3 linked regions of the Homo sapiens genome follow. Changing the gene in region 1 together with any one later gene gives a genetic interaction. Each region holds a gene or a part of one and is shown on either strand. Other genes may lie near its edges.

Region 1 (4,986 bases):
AAGTTGCACGCCACTGCACCCCAGCATGGGTGACAAAGTGAGACTCTGTCTCAAAAAAAAAAAAGAAAGAAAGAAAAGACTACTAAGTCTTAGGGAAGTTGAGTTTGTATGAATTGGTGAAGGTATATCTCAGAACCAAAACAAGGTTACTATATTTGAAAAAACATTAGGACATTTTATCAAATCTGACACCATTAAATTTTTTTAAACACTTATGTAACACAGAAAAAGAAAAACTACCAATCAATACAACACCCTGTCAAACACAAGGTGCAGCCTCATTTTAAAGATGTTACAGTAAAAAGAGAGTGTCGTGGAATTAATGAAATATGAAAAATCAGTTTTGTTTGCATTCTTCTCAGTTTTAAGTACATATTCACAGTATAATTAACAAAAACAGTAGTAGTCGCTCAACAGTTGAGGGTTCCATTTTGCGTGTTGCTTTTTGAGTTCTATCATTTATGTCTTTGCTTACTTCATATGGAGGGTGTTTTGTACTCTGAGGCCTTCGTTCATGCCGCTACTCACATGATTTATATTTTTCAGATTTTGGAAGATGGCAAAGTTCATGACACCCGTGATCCAGGACAACCCCTCAGGCTGGGGTCCCTGTGCGGTTCCCGAGCAGTTTCGGGATATGCCCTACCAGCCGTTCAGCAAAGGAGATCGGCTAGGAAAGGTACATGCCTGTCAGCAGGAGTCTGAATCTTTGCAGCTGTGGCTGCTACTCTCGAGTCCCTGTTTAGATTTTATTGTCTCAAAATCTTAACTCCTGAATTTCTTATAGGGATGCCAGCTGAGAAAGGTTATCTCTGGGTGTAGTCATAGAAGAGCTGGGCACTTACAGAGGTGTTGTGAACAAATTCTGAGACTCTTCCACGCTGTCCTCTCGCGCTCAGGGATTTCTGGTTCTGCAGAAACTTGCCTGGTTGACCTGTGCATTCTCTGTCTTTTCTTGTTCTTCGTAGGTTGCAGACTGGACAGGAGCCACATACCAAGATAAGAGGTACACAAGTAAGTGTTTCTGCAACTGAATGCCCCAATCAGGGCCTTGGGAAAGTTGTTCTTTATTCTAATGACCTTCTTCTGAAAGCTTTTTAGAATGGGAAGAAACTGCCAACAATAATTCATAACTTTTAGGGATGTATTCTGGGCTTTAACAATAACCACATTTTTGGAAATAGCCCTCAAAACTTAGACCATTCATTAAAGAGGTCTAGCCTATTAAAATGGGGTTTTGGGCCCTTTTAAAAACCTGTTGAAAACATTAGCTGGGCGTGGTGGCGTGCACCTGTAATCCCAGCTACTCGGGTGGCTGAGGCAGGACAATCACTTGAACCCAGAAGTTAGAGGTTGCAGTGAGCAGAGATCATGCTATTGTACTCCAGCCTGGTGACAGAGCCAGATCCTGTCTCCAAAAAAAAAAAAAAAAAAAAAAGTAAAACCCCTGGTTTTAAGATCCTGGTACCATAAAAAGGCTTTTTCTCTCTGCCACTTCAGATAGTTGGAGGTGGCTGCCTGGAGAACTAAGTTAGGATAGCTGAGGCTGAGATTGGCAAGAAAGTATATCGTGATCTATTAGACATACCTGCCATGGGCCCCTGATAATGGAGATGGTGGTTAGCAATAAATACCTCAGATTCTCACACAATAACGCAGAGAGTGAAATGGGTTAGTTTGAGTCCTTCAGATTCTTGGCTTAGAAAGTTCTTTAGGCCAGAGTTGTTCAAAATTGAATGTGCATATGAATCATCCGGGGATCTTGTTAAAATGCTGGTTCTGATTCAGTGGGTATGGGGTGGGACTGTGAGTCTGTGTGTCTAACAAGCTTTCAGCCAATGCTACAGGTCTCAAGACCACACTTGAAATAGCAAGGCTTTAGACTGGTGCATATCTGGTAAAGTCTGTGGGTGCAGTTACTACATGCCATCACCTTTGCCTCCAGATAAGTACTCCTCTCAGTTTGGTGGTGGAAGTCAATATGCTTATTTCCATGAGGAGGATGAAAGTAGCTTCCAGCTGGTGGATACAGCGCGCACACAGAAGACGGCCTACCAGCGGAATCGAATGAGATTTGCCCAGGTAGGCCAAGAGCCAGCAACCACACCATCTTGGGGCTGTTACTGTTGGCCATCACCTGCTAAAAAATGCTACCTTGTGACTCCTAATGAGAGAGGGAAGCATATTATAGGTCTTTTCGTGAATCTCGGGTCACCGTTCCATAACAAGTGGTACCAAGGTGAACTTGCACTAGGATCAGGGATGCATTTAAATAGTTTATATTTCTGTTTGCCAGTAGCTAGGACATCAGACTTGTATGCTAAAAACATTTGTGCTGGATAAGAAGGTGCACCTGTGCCTGTTACCACACTTAATTGCTGTGTGCAGACTTTATTAAGTAGATGGTCCAGTCAGATTGCCTATTATTATTTAAAGAGGCAAACTCAGAAAATCTAATGAGACCCAGTAAACATACTTCAATGAAAAATATATCATGGGAGTATAGGTCTAAGCAAAGTCCAAGCACTTACCCCCTAACACCCCCAAGCTGTTGATGCCGTAGAGTGAAAGCACAGAGTAAGATGTGAAACTTGGGATTTGGCATCCTAAATTTACTCCAAAGACCTCCCACTTGTTCTGCCTATTGTGAGCCAAATCTCCAAGATTTTAACATGGATGTTTCTTGCTGATGCCCAGAGGAACCTCCGCAGAGACAAAGATCGTCGGAACATGTTGCAGTTCAACCTGCAGATCCTGCCTAAGAGTGCCAAACAGAAAGAGAGGTGAGATTTTCATCCTGCTGGAACAAGACACCCTTCCCAGACTGGCCGTATTTGGAAACCACAGGACCAAAGCAGGAGGATGGTTGTATTCCCCACCACTGCAAAAAAGGAAAATACTTTCTACAACCAGTTAAGCCCCCTTTTAGCTTGTCGTTCTCAGGCTGGTTCATGGCAGATAGCATGGGCAGGAAACTAACTCCTTGTGCTGGTCATGCGCACTAAAGGGAAACACAGGCAGGCAAGAAGAGGCTCTGGAGCTTACCTGGGCTCAGTTCTGCTGTGGGTCAACTCTAGGAAGCCCCCTGTATGCTGGTCCTTTGAGCCTCCTGGTGTTGTGTGGTCCAGCGGCCACTACACCCCAGATTGGAACTATCAGTGAACAGTCACTATAGATGAAGTAAAATCATCTGGTCAGTATTTGGAGGCAGTGTACCTTTTCTAACACCTCCAGTATGCACCGTCTGGGTCTCTTCCTTTCTCTAAGCCCATTTTTCGTAGTTTAAAGGAGTTAGTGGTGATGGTAAGGTTTAGCTGAAGAGAATGGCAGCGTGTGCCTTTTGAAGAAGCCACTGGTTTAAAGGTCTGCACTGAGATCATATGTCTGTCTTTCCAGAGAACGCATTCGACTGCAGAAAAAGTTCCAGAAACAATTTGGGGTTAGGCAGAAATGGGATCAGAAATCACAGGTAATGTATTTATACCAGAATTCTGCCTTGGAATTTGGTTCTGTTTATTTGGTTGTCTTTATTAATAGCTTAGATGAGATATACTTCACATACCGTACAATTTAGTGGTTTTTAATATATTTGAAGAGTTCTGTAACTGGTCAATTTCAGACCATTTTCATCACCCTCAAAAGAATCCCTTACCCTTTAGCAGTCACCCTGTCTTGATCTGTTTTCCGTTGCTAGAACAGAATACCTGAGAGTGGGTAAGTTATAAAGCGGTTTCTTTAGCTCATGGTTCTGGGGACTGGGAAGTCCCAGATCAGGAGCCACATCTGGTGAGGGCCTCATGCTGCTTGATAGCATGGCAGAAAAAGCAGAAGCGGGAGCAGGGTGCAACAGAGAAAAGGGCTAAACTTTGGGTAGTTAGCCCATTCCTGAGAGAAGGGCATGAGGCATTTATTCCTTTTAACGACCTAATCTCTTAAAGGCCCTACCTCCCGACACTGCCGCAGTAGCAACCAGATTGCCAAATGAATTCCAGGAGGCACACCCAAACACCAGCACCCCCAGTAGCCCAGCAGTAGGCAGCTATGAATCTGTTTTCTGTCTCGGGATTTTTTGTTCTAGACATTTTACATAAATGGAATCATACAATATGTGGTCTTTAGTAACTGGCAGCTTTTATTTAGCGTGTTTTCAAGAGTCATCCATGTGGTAGCATGTGTCGGTACAGTTTTCCTTCAGTATATGAAAGTCTACACATTCTCAAGTCCCACATTCGGCCTGTGGTAGCCACATATATGAAAAGTCGGCCCTCCATATACTCGGGGTTTGCATCCCAAGAATACTGTTTTCTTTTTCTTTTCTTTTTTGAGACAGAGTCTTGCTCTGTCACCCAGGCTGGAGTGCAGTGGCATGAATCTTAGCCAACTGCAACCTCTGCCTGCTGGGTTCAAGTGATCCTCCTACCTCAGCCTTCTGAGTAGCTGAGACTATAGGCATGCACCACCACGCCTGGCTAATTTTTGTATTTTCTGTAGATAGGGGGTTCTGCCATGTTCCCCAGGCTGGTCTCAAACTCCTGAGCTCAAGCAGTCCACCCACCTCAGCCTCCCAAAGTGCTGGGGTTACAGCCATGAGCCACTGCGCCTGGCTTGTATTTTCAATCCATGTTTGTTTGAAGAAAATCTGCATATTAAGTAGACCCATGTACTTCAAACCCATGTTGTTCAAGTTCAGCTGTGCTTCATCTGTTGTTGGTTTTTTTGGTTTTTGTTTTTTGTTTTTTTAAGATGGAATCTCACTCTGTCACCCAAGCTGCAGTGCCAGTGGCGCGATCTTGGCTCACTGCAACCTCCGCCTCCCGGGTTAAAGTGATTCTCACACCTCAGCCTCCCAGGTAGCTAGGATTACAGGCACGTGCCAACATGTCTGGCTTTTTTTTTTTTTTTTTCATATGTTTTGTAGAGACAGGGTTTTACCATGTTGGCCCGGCTGGTTTCAAACTCCTGACCTCAGATGATCCACCCACCTCA
Region 2 (4,585 bases), on another chromosome or scaffold:
AAGTAAAAAAACAAAAAGCCCAGGCTCCAGTAATGTTCATAAGCAATAATTTCTCTCTTTGAAAACAGAAGTATTTGCATTACATTCCTATTAAACACATCACCTTCAATTTTCCCTGCCAGCCTAGCTCCCAGTTCCTTGTAGGATTTCTGTTCTTACCACGTAAGAAAATAAGTCATTCTATTATATAGACCAGCAAGAATTTGCTTTTTTTAAAAAGTAGAAATAACCATACATAACAACTTCAGTTCTATGGCTTTCAGAATGCAAGAAACGTCTAGGACTACCAGTATTCTAGTTACTTATAGAATTTTTTTATGTTCTAATACTGCGATGTCTAGCATGGTAGCCACTAGCCACATGTGGCTGCTTAATTTTGTATTAAGTAAAATTTAAAATTCAGTTCTCAGTAACACAAGCCACATTTCAAGTGTTCACTAGCCATGTGGGGCTAGTGGCTGCTATACCAGTGTAGATACTTAATGTTTCTATCATCATAGAAAGTTTTATTTAGGCAGTATTATATGTTATGATATGGGATGGGCTTTTTGTTTCAGTCTAGAAACTACAAAAAAAAAGACAGCAGGGAGGAATAAGATCTTCAAGAAACTCATTCCCTTAAAACCCACCCACATACATACACACACACAAAATTTTTTTAATTAAAAATATCACTATCATTTATGCCAGTGTTCCACTACTCTACAAAGATATGCATATTCTTTTAGAAAGTAGCATTAGTATTGCAGCTAGCCACAATAATTTAGTTGAAATTTAAATCACAATATTTAGCCCCTCTAAAAATGCAATACTTACATCCCTATATATAACTACATATCTATATTCTCTCTATATAGTATCCTGTATGTTATTTATCCACTATACATCTCTATATAGCTAATATGCTATATATTACTATATACAGTGATAATATAAATATACACACATTTTATGCATTATATATATAACTATACGGTAATACTATATGTATGTAATATATAGTAAGTGTGCCATAAAGTGTCACCTACCTTGGCTTCCAATATCAGAGACTTCTACTCCAGTGTCCATTTTTATACCATCAAGAATGATAGCTTGATCACCACCGCCTTCATCATCTTCCTTCTCAGAGTCTTCAAGATCACCCCAGGAGTTTTCTACTCCCTCTCCAATTTGGGCAGTTCCAGGAGTCCATAGCACAGGTGTAGAAACACTTAACAAGTTAAGAAAACTGAGTAACAAAAATATTGCTATTTGATGAACTGTTGAAGATGAGAATGAAAGTTTTCTTCTTGTAAGATTGATTCAAGTGTGCCCCAAGTTCCTAGGGGAAAAAAAACTTAATATAGCTACACTATGGATGGCTGAACAATGAAGAAGAAAAAAAACTCAGGCAAGATTTTATGGATGCAATTAATAAGAAATGTGAAGAGACAGATTCTCTCAACATTTTAGTTATAGTACTAAATTAAATTGGTCCTTAAAATCTGTTTTTTCCAGGATAACTGAATAGAAGCTGAATGTTATACCATCAACAGAATATGACTCACATCTCTATCTTGTATTTTAAGTGTTTTCTCTAACAAAGTACAGTGTTTACAAAAACTAATTTCAGTATACACATCCTTCATATAGCCTAATATTATAATGCCAAGTGTTATGAATCTTGTTACTGCAAAAACCACCAAATAAAGATACACTTCTGAAGGAGGTTCTGCTTCAGCAATGATTTCTTCTGCTTTTTCTTCTACATCCGAGGTATCAATAGGGGCCTTTTCCATTTTAAATGCTGTGATCCTTTGATTTGCTATAGACTCTGCAAAACCAAACTTTCCACCTTCTTTCCTGTATGTGGGGGTTTTTTTGGTGGGAAGGAAGGGGGAGGAAGGTAACAGATTGGATAGAAGACAGGAAGGGAAAAAAACTATTATTTTATCCTTTGGTGGATGAAAAATATTGGAAGAGAGTTAGTTTATCTAACTTAACCTCACCAATTTATTATGCCTAACAAGAGTAAATAGTTAGCATAATCATTTATTAAACCACGTGCCAGACCATGTGCTAGGTGCTTAAAATATACTATTCTCTAACCCTCAAATCAGCCCTACCAGGTAGTGTTAATATCCCATATTATAGAAGAGGACACTGAAATGCTGGGTTATGTATCTTGCTTAAGATAGCACAGTAAGAGGTAGAGATGGAAATCAACCTGTTTCCTTCCATTAATTTGAGTTACTAGATTATTTTTATCCTAAGAAAATGTTAACTGCTAAAGAAAAATCTTATGTCTCCAGGCACGGTGGCTCACACCTGTAATCCTAATATTTTGGGAGGCCCAGGCGGGTGGATCACCTGAGGTCAGGAGTTTGAGACCGGCCTGGCCAAAACGGCGAAACCCCATCCCTACTAAAAATATAAAAATTAGCCGGGCATGGTGGTATGCATCTGTAATCTCAGCTATTTGGGAGGCTGAGGCAGGAGAATCACTTGAAGCCATGAGGCGGAGGCTGCAGTGAGCTGAGATTGCACAAATGCACTATAGCCTAGGTGACAGAGTGAGAAGTGAGACTTCATCTCAAAAAACAAACAAAAATCTTATATGATTTTTCAATATAGGTTACATTTAAATTGCAGAAAATATAACAAGTCCAATTTTCTAAAAACACATTAAATAGTATACTCAATTCAGATTAACAAATAAGGAAAGATCAAGTGTGAAATTTATATGGTTGCCCTCGTTCAAGGAAGATCCTTAAGAAAAAAAATATATTAAAAGACCATTTAGGGCCATTTCCTGTTCCCTGTGTTGTATCTTGGAGTCTGGATTAATGAAGACCTCTTGCTCTTAGGAGGGTCTTTCCTCTTTATTGTTTTAGAATTCTGGACTTGACCCAGACTTAAATTCCCATCTGTGATGCATTTTGCAATAAGTGGGTTTGATGCCAGCACTTTGAAAGATATCCCTCATAAAACAAAAGGACAAGAATCACCAGCTCCCACACAAAGTAAAAAACGTGAACCTAATTTTAGCAGTGTTAATAAGGAGCAACTATCCACAAGTCACTGCATCAATAATGCTTGTGTTATAACATCCTCTCCTCCCTAAGGCACAGGAGCAAGTGACACATACTTGTCTGGGAACCAGTTTCATTAATACTTTTATTGTATCCGTCCAAAGATGAGTAGCAATATCTGTTACCAGTTTCACTACCTTTCGGAGTTTTGGGTAACATAACTATACCATGGTATTTACACTTTTTAATGAGTCAATTTTAATTGAAATTGCCATTCTAACTTTGTATGTGAAATCAAGTTCATGCATAATAAAGCTTGCTTATACTAAAAAAAATAATAAAAATTTAAAAAATGAAAATAAAAGACCACTTAGTTCTGGAAAAGTTACTTACCTTACTTTTTGGTCATTCTCCAAAGCTTTCAATATTAGCTCTGTAATTTCTGCTACTTTCACACCAGCGATTTTACTGCATCTCAGAACCTATTTATAAAAGTGAATTCTGTTGTTTAAAGACAATAAACCAAATAGTTTTCTCTAATGAAACTAAAACCATGAAATTTTTCTACCTTTATAATTTAAGCCTGACTTTTCCAAACATGAATACAATGTAAACACAGATTAAGGCAAGATGTGAAAGTTGTTTTAAGATATGTGAAGGACTGTCACATCAAGGGAACAGACATAAAAACTTTCTTATACAACAGTATAAAAGATACCACAGAAGAGGCCACAGACACATATATGCTCCAGGATGCACTAACTTCCTTTTTCTGTGGGTAATCTGGGTAGTACTTGTGATGCTGGTAAAGATGATGATGATGATACCAGAAACTAACATTTATTGCACACTTAATAAATGTGTGCTAGACACTGTGCAATATATTTATATCCTTATAACAACAAGGTGTTGGCAATAACATCATTCCCTATTTTACAGATAAAGAAAGTGAGACCCAAAGATATAAAATCATTTGCCCAAGATCAGCTAGTATGGGGGCAGAACTAGAATTCAAACTAAAGAAGCTTTTAATCATCTACACTGTATGCTATATGGAGATCTATTTTCTAAAAGCTCCCATGTGAATATGATATATAGCTGGGTTTCAGAACTACTGCCAATTGTAGTTCTAAAAGTGCAAGTAAAACTATCTTTTTACATAATGTCTACTATTGGATGTTTAAAAATTTTTATTTGCTTTTGAGACAGGGTCTCATTCCGTAGCCCAGGCTGGAATGCAGTGACACGATCTCAGCTCACTCAACCTCCACCTCCTAGGCTCAAGCAATCCTCCCACCTCAGCCTCCCAAGTGGCCAGGACCACACGCATGCACCACCAAGCTCGGCTAATATTTATTTATTTATTTTATTTTTTATTTTTTCAGATGGAATTTTGCTGTTGTTGCCCAGACTGGAGAACAATGGCACGATCTCAGCTCACTGCAACCTCTGCCTCCCGGATTCAAGCAATTCTCCTGCCTCAGCCTCCCAAGTAGCTGGGATTACAGGCGTGCGCCAGCCACCACACCCAGCTAATTTTGTATTTTTAGTAGAGATGGGTTTCACCATGTTGG
Region 3 (4,986 bases), on another chromosome or scaffold:
CCCAGGGACCTTTGGCCTGTTAAAGGTCTGTAATCTTGGTGGGCGATACAGAGTTATGTGTGTTCACTGTAAGGGCAGACCAACAAGAACTTTTTCCTACTTTTGAGCTACCTCTTTTTAATAGGGGTGATTCTTCCAGTTGCTGGAGAGAAATTGTGGTAACTGGAGTGAGAGAGTAGGAACAGGGCATGTTCAGGGTATCAGGGCCAAGGGTCCTAAAGGACTTAGCTTGTGTTATGGCCACTGAGAGATGAAACACAGATCTTTGGTAATCTGATGGCTGCAAGTGCTGGGTGTTTTGAAGTTGGGGTATATGAAAGAAGTGAGTGAAACTGACTCCAAGATTCTGCCCCTCACAGTGGTATCCCGCCACTCCCAGGAGCTTCCAGCTATCCTGGATGATACAACTTTGAGTGGATCAGATAGAAACGCCCATCTAAATGCCCTCAAAATGAACTGTTATGCTCTGATACGTCTCCTGGAATCCTTTGAGACCATGGCCAGCCAGACAAACCTTGTGGACCTGGACCTTGGTGGGAAGGTAATTTGGAGTTTTGGGCTCACGTTATATGGGGTCTGGGGAGATAGGGGAATAGATGGAAAAGAAGGGAATCCAATGATCCACAAATCCTTTCTGTCCTCATTGAGAATTTAGGAGAAAGAACTCAAAAGTGTCACACGTTTTCTTCCTGGACAAGTAGCGCTGTGGAACTTGTAATATTTCTTCCGTATTACCTTCTATGTTGTCTTGGTACTAGATTGTTTGGGCACTCAGACTGACAGATCTTGACCCACTTTTTTCCCTTATTTTTTCCTCAATGTATACATGATCCTTTTTAGGGTAAGAAAGCTCGGACCAAGGCAGCCCATGGCTTTGACTGGGAAGAAGAGAGGCAACCAATTCTTCAGCTTTTAACACAGCTACTTCAGTTGGACATCCGTCACCTGTGGAACCACTCAATAATTGAAGAAGAATTTGTCAGGTGGGTAGGGAGGATGGCTACAGATAATACTGAGCTGTGAGAGTGAGGCTCTGTTGATAGATATGCCGTTTTTTTGGTTTTGTTTTTTTTTTGTGGGGGGACAGAGCTTCACTCTTGTCGCCCAGGCTGGAGCGCAGTGGTTCAATCTCGGCTCACTGCAGCCTCTACCTCCTGGGTTCAAGCAATTTTCCTGCCTCAGCCTCCCGAGTAGCTGGGATTACAGGTGCCCGCCACCACAAGCTGATTTTTGTATTTTTAATAGAGACGGGTTTTGCCATGTTGGCCAGGCTGGTCTTGAACTCCTAACCTCAGGTGATCTCCCTGCTTTGGCCCCCCAAAGTGCTGGGATTACAGGTGTGAGCCACCACGCCCAGCCAGAAGTCTATTTTTAAAATAAGTAAAATAAGTTTGATGGAAGAAGGTTGTGATTTTAAATCAGCTACTCTAGGCCCGGTGCGGTGGCTCACGCCTATAATCCCAGCACTCTGGGAGGCCGAGGCGAGTGGATCACCTGAGGTCAGGAGTTCAAGACCGGCCTGGCCAACATGGTGAAACCTTGTCTCTACTAAAAAAATATGAAAATTAGCTGTGCATGGTGGTGTGTGCCTGTAATGCCAGCTACTTGGGAGGCTGAGGCAGGAGCATCACTTGAACCTGGGAGAGGGAGGTTGCAATGAGCTGAGATCGCACCATTGCACTCCATCCTGGGCGACAAGAGCAAAATCCCGTCTCAAAAAAAATAGATAGGGCCAGGCGCGGTGGCTCACGCCTGTAATCCCAGCACTTTGGGAGGCTGAGGCAGGTGGATCACGAGGTCAGGAGATCGAGACCACGGTGAAACCCCGTCTCTACTAAAAATACAAAAAAAAATTAGCCGGGCATGGTGGCGGGCGCCTCTAGTCCCAGCTACTCAGGAGGCTGAGGCAGGAGAATGGCGTGAACCCGGGAGGTGGAGCTTGCAGTGACCTGAGATCGCGCCACTGCACTCCAGCCTGGGCAACAGAGCAAGACTCCATCTCCAAAAAAAAAAAAAAAAAAAAAGATAGATAGATAGATAGACAGACAGACAAACAGACAGACAAGCTACTCTAGTAAGACTTCTTTGAGATGGTGACATTTGAGCAAAGACCCAGAGGAGGTGACTGAGAGCTATGAGAATATGTGGAGGAATAGCAAGGGCAGGGAAAAGGAATAGCATATGCAAAGACCTTGAGGAGGGAGCATGTCCAGCACGTACGAGCAATAGCAAGGAGGCCAGAGAGCTGACAGCTGAGAGCAGGTACGAGGGTTAGGCCGTGAGGCCATGGGAGCAGTGGGGAGCCAGACCGCAGGTTCTTGTGGGCCATCATGGTGACTTTGGCATTTCCTCAGAATGAAGTGGAGCCACTGGGGAGCCACAAGCAGGGAGGTGAGGTGACCTGACTTGTACTTCAACAGGGCCATCCTAGCTGTTGTATTGAAATCGACTATGGAGGGAAAGGGGAAGCAAGAGACCAGTTAAGAGGCTGTTCCAATAACTCAAGCAAGAGATGATGGTCTCTTAGACCAAGGCGTGGCAGTGGAGATGGGGAGAAGTAGTTGGATTCTATACTTTTTCCTTAAGGTAGAGCTTACAGGATTTGCTAACAGACTGGGTGTGAGGTGGGAGGGAGAGTTCAGTCAAGGATGACTCTCCCGGGTTTTGGTCTGAGCATTTGGAAGACTGGAGTTAATGGTAACTGAGATAGGGAGAAGGCTGTGAATAGGTGTTTTGGGAGGAAGATCAGATGTTCTGTTTTGGACATACAAAGTTTGAGGTGTTTATTAGCCACGTAAAGTCAGATTTGGACGTTGAATATATAGATCTGGAGTTCAGGAGAGAGGTCTGAGCTAGAGATAACACATTTGGGAATATAATAGTATTCAGAGCCGTGAGACTGAATGAAATTACCAAATCAGTAAGTGTAGCTAAAAGAGCAGGAATCCAAGGACTGGTACCCTAGGGCACTCCAGCATTAAGAGTGAGGATGCCGGGTGCATGGCTCACGCCTATAATCCTAGCACTTTGGGAGGCTGAGGCAGGAGGATCACTTGAGCCCAGGAGTTTGAGATCAGCCTGGACAACATAGTGAAACTGTGTCTCTACAAAAAATAGAAAAATTAGCTGGGCATGGTGGAGGCTGAGGTGGGAGCATCACCTGAGCTATGAGGAGGTCAAGGATGCAGTGAGCCGTGATTGCACCACTGCACTCCAGCCTGGGCAACAGAGGCAGACCCTGTCTCAAAAAAAAGAGTCTGAGGAGGAACTAGCCAAAGAAACTGAGAAAGGAGTCTTGTTCTTGTGTCCTGGAAGCGAGATAAAGCATATATTTCAAGGAGAAAGTGAGTGATTAACTGTATCACATGCAGCTGTGAAAGACCACTTGAGATGCAGATTGAATCAGTCGTTATATTTAGGAATGAGAAGTCATTGGTGACTTTGTCTTTTTTTTTTTTTTTTTTGTGATGGAGTCTCGCAATGTCGCCTGGCCTGGAGTGCAGTGGCATGATATCAGCTCACTGCAACCTCCACCTCCCAGGTTCAAGGGATTCTCCTGCCTCAGCCTCCCAAGTAGCTGGGATTACAGGCGCCCACCACCACACCCAGCTAATTTTTTGTATTTTTAGTAGAGACAGGGTTTCACTATGTTGGCCAAGCTGGTCTTGAATGCCTGACCTCGTGATCCACCTGCCTCGGCCTCCCAAAGTGCTGGGATTACAGGCATGAGCCACCACACCCGGCCAACTCTATCATATTTTTATGATATATTTAGGTTCTTTGTCAGCATCACAACTGGTTGAAAGTTGGTAATCTTGAAGGAAGGAGTACCTAACTGGGGTCAGCAAAGCAAAGCAACTTGTTATAGAAAGTAATGGCTAGAATAAAGAAAACCCTGACTTTGGGAGCAGTAGGGATAGAATGAATGAGGCAGGGCTCTGATACAATTGGATTCAGACAGCTGCTTTCATCATCTCAAACTCTTCCTTTCTCAGTTTGGTTACTGGCTGTTGCTACCGCCTTCTGGAGAATCCCACCATTAATCACCAGAAGAACCGCCCCACTCGGGAAGCCATAACACACCTGCTTGGTGTAGCCTTGACCCGTTATAACCATATGCTCAGTAAGTTACCAGTCGCTTTGCCCCGCCTTTTTTGTATTGCCCATAATTTCTCATGTTTAATGCTTCCACAGGTGCTACAGTGAAGATCATCCAGATGCTGCAGCACTTTGAACACCTGGCACCTGTACTGGTTGCAGCCGTGAGTCTATGGGCAACTGACTATGGAATGAAGAGCATAGTGGGAGAGATTGTAAGGTGACTCTTCCTTCTCGAAGTTTCTCATGCTTATTTTCCTTGGGGAGGGAATAAAGAAAGATTGGAAATACATTATCTGTGCAACAGTAGATTCCTTCAGATATTAGATACCTGTCTTACCTTCCCTTACTGGGAACTGAATAATTGATCTATGTTGCTATGGCTGTGTTTTCTTCCCTGTGTAGAGAGATTGGACAAAAGTGTCCCCAAGAGCTGAGTCGAGACCCTTCAGGGACAAAGGGCTTTGCAGCATTCCTGACAGAACTAGCAGAACGTGTCCCAGCTATCCTGATGTCCAGCATGTGCATTTTGCTAGATCACCTGGATGGAGAAGTAGGTGGTCCACTAGGGGTCACTGAGCTTTTTCTGGGGATTTTAAGTCCAGTGTTGAAAGGCTGTTTCTTAACAGAACAAGAAAGTAGCTTTGACAAGTTGTCTAGATTTATCATTGTGACATTTCCTTTCTGTAGAGAAGCAGGTCAAGTTTGTTGAATAAGGAGCTCTTTATTAATCTGTTAATCTTTCAATTCACATTGCTTTTATCCAGTTCTGGTAAGGGAGATGACATTTCTGCAGCTTAAGTCTAGTAAGAGCAACTCAGCTTTGATTTTTTTTTTTTCTTGGAGGTAGGATCTGGCTCTGTCACCCATGCTGGAGCATGATCATAG

What was found.
Region 2: changes in EIF3D (region 1) and EXOSC9 together harm fitness more than expected from each alone (negative genetic interaction), as found in Homo sapiens cells (one large-scale study listed by BioGRID).
Region 3: changes in EIF3D (region 1) and NCAPD2 together harm fitness less than expected from each alone (positive genetic interaction), as found in Homo sapiens cells (one large-scale study listed by BioGRID).

Annotation. Positions count from the first base shown.
Region 1 is NC_000022.11:36,521,692-36,526,677, reverse strand, and holds part of EIF3D (eukaryotic translation initiation factor 3 subunit D), read left to right. Parts: intron 1-546; 5' UTR 547-556; coding exon 557-679; intron 680-968; coding exon 969-1,014; intron 1,015-1,945; coding exon 1,946-2,082; intron 2,083-2,697; coding exon 2,698-2,783; intron 2,784-3,396; coding exon 3,397-3,469; intron 3,470-4,986. UniProt on the Homo sapiens protein: mRNA cap-binding component of the eukaryotic translation initiation factor 3 (eIF-3) complex, a complex required for several steps in the initiation of protein synthesis of a specialized repertoire of mRNAs.
Region 2 is NC_000004.12:121,810,491-121,815,075, reverse strand, and holds part of EXOSC9 (exosome complex component RRP45), read right to left. Parts: intron 3,494-4,585; coding exon 3,405-3,493; intron 1,843-3,404; coding exon 1,696-1,842; intron 1,211-1,695; coding exon 1,029-1,210; intron 1-1,028. UniProt on the Homo sapiens protein: Non-catalytic component of the RNA exosome complex which has 3'->5' exoribonuclease activity and participates in a multitude of cellular RNA processing and degradation events.
Region 3 is NC_000012.12:6,510,270-6,515,255, forward strand, and holds part of NCAPD2 (condensin complex subunit 1), read left to right. Parts: exon of another isoform or gene 1-282; intron 283-359; coding exon 360-541; intron 542-840; coding exon 841-983; intron 984-3,995; coding exon 3,996-4,123; intron 4,124-4,194; coding exon 4,195-4,318; intron 4,319-4,503; coding exon 4,504-4,651; intron 4,652-4,986. UniProt on the Homo sapiens protein: Regulatory subunit of the condensin complex, a complex required for conversion of interphase chromatin into mitotic-like condense chromosomes.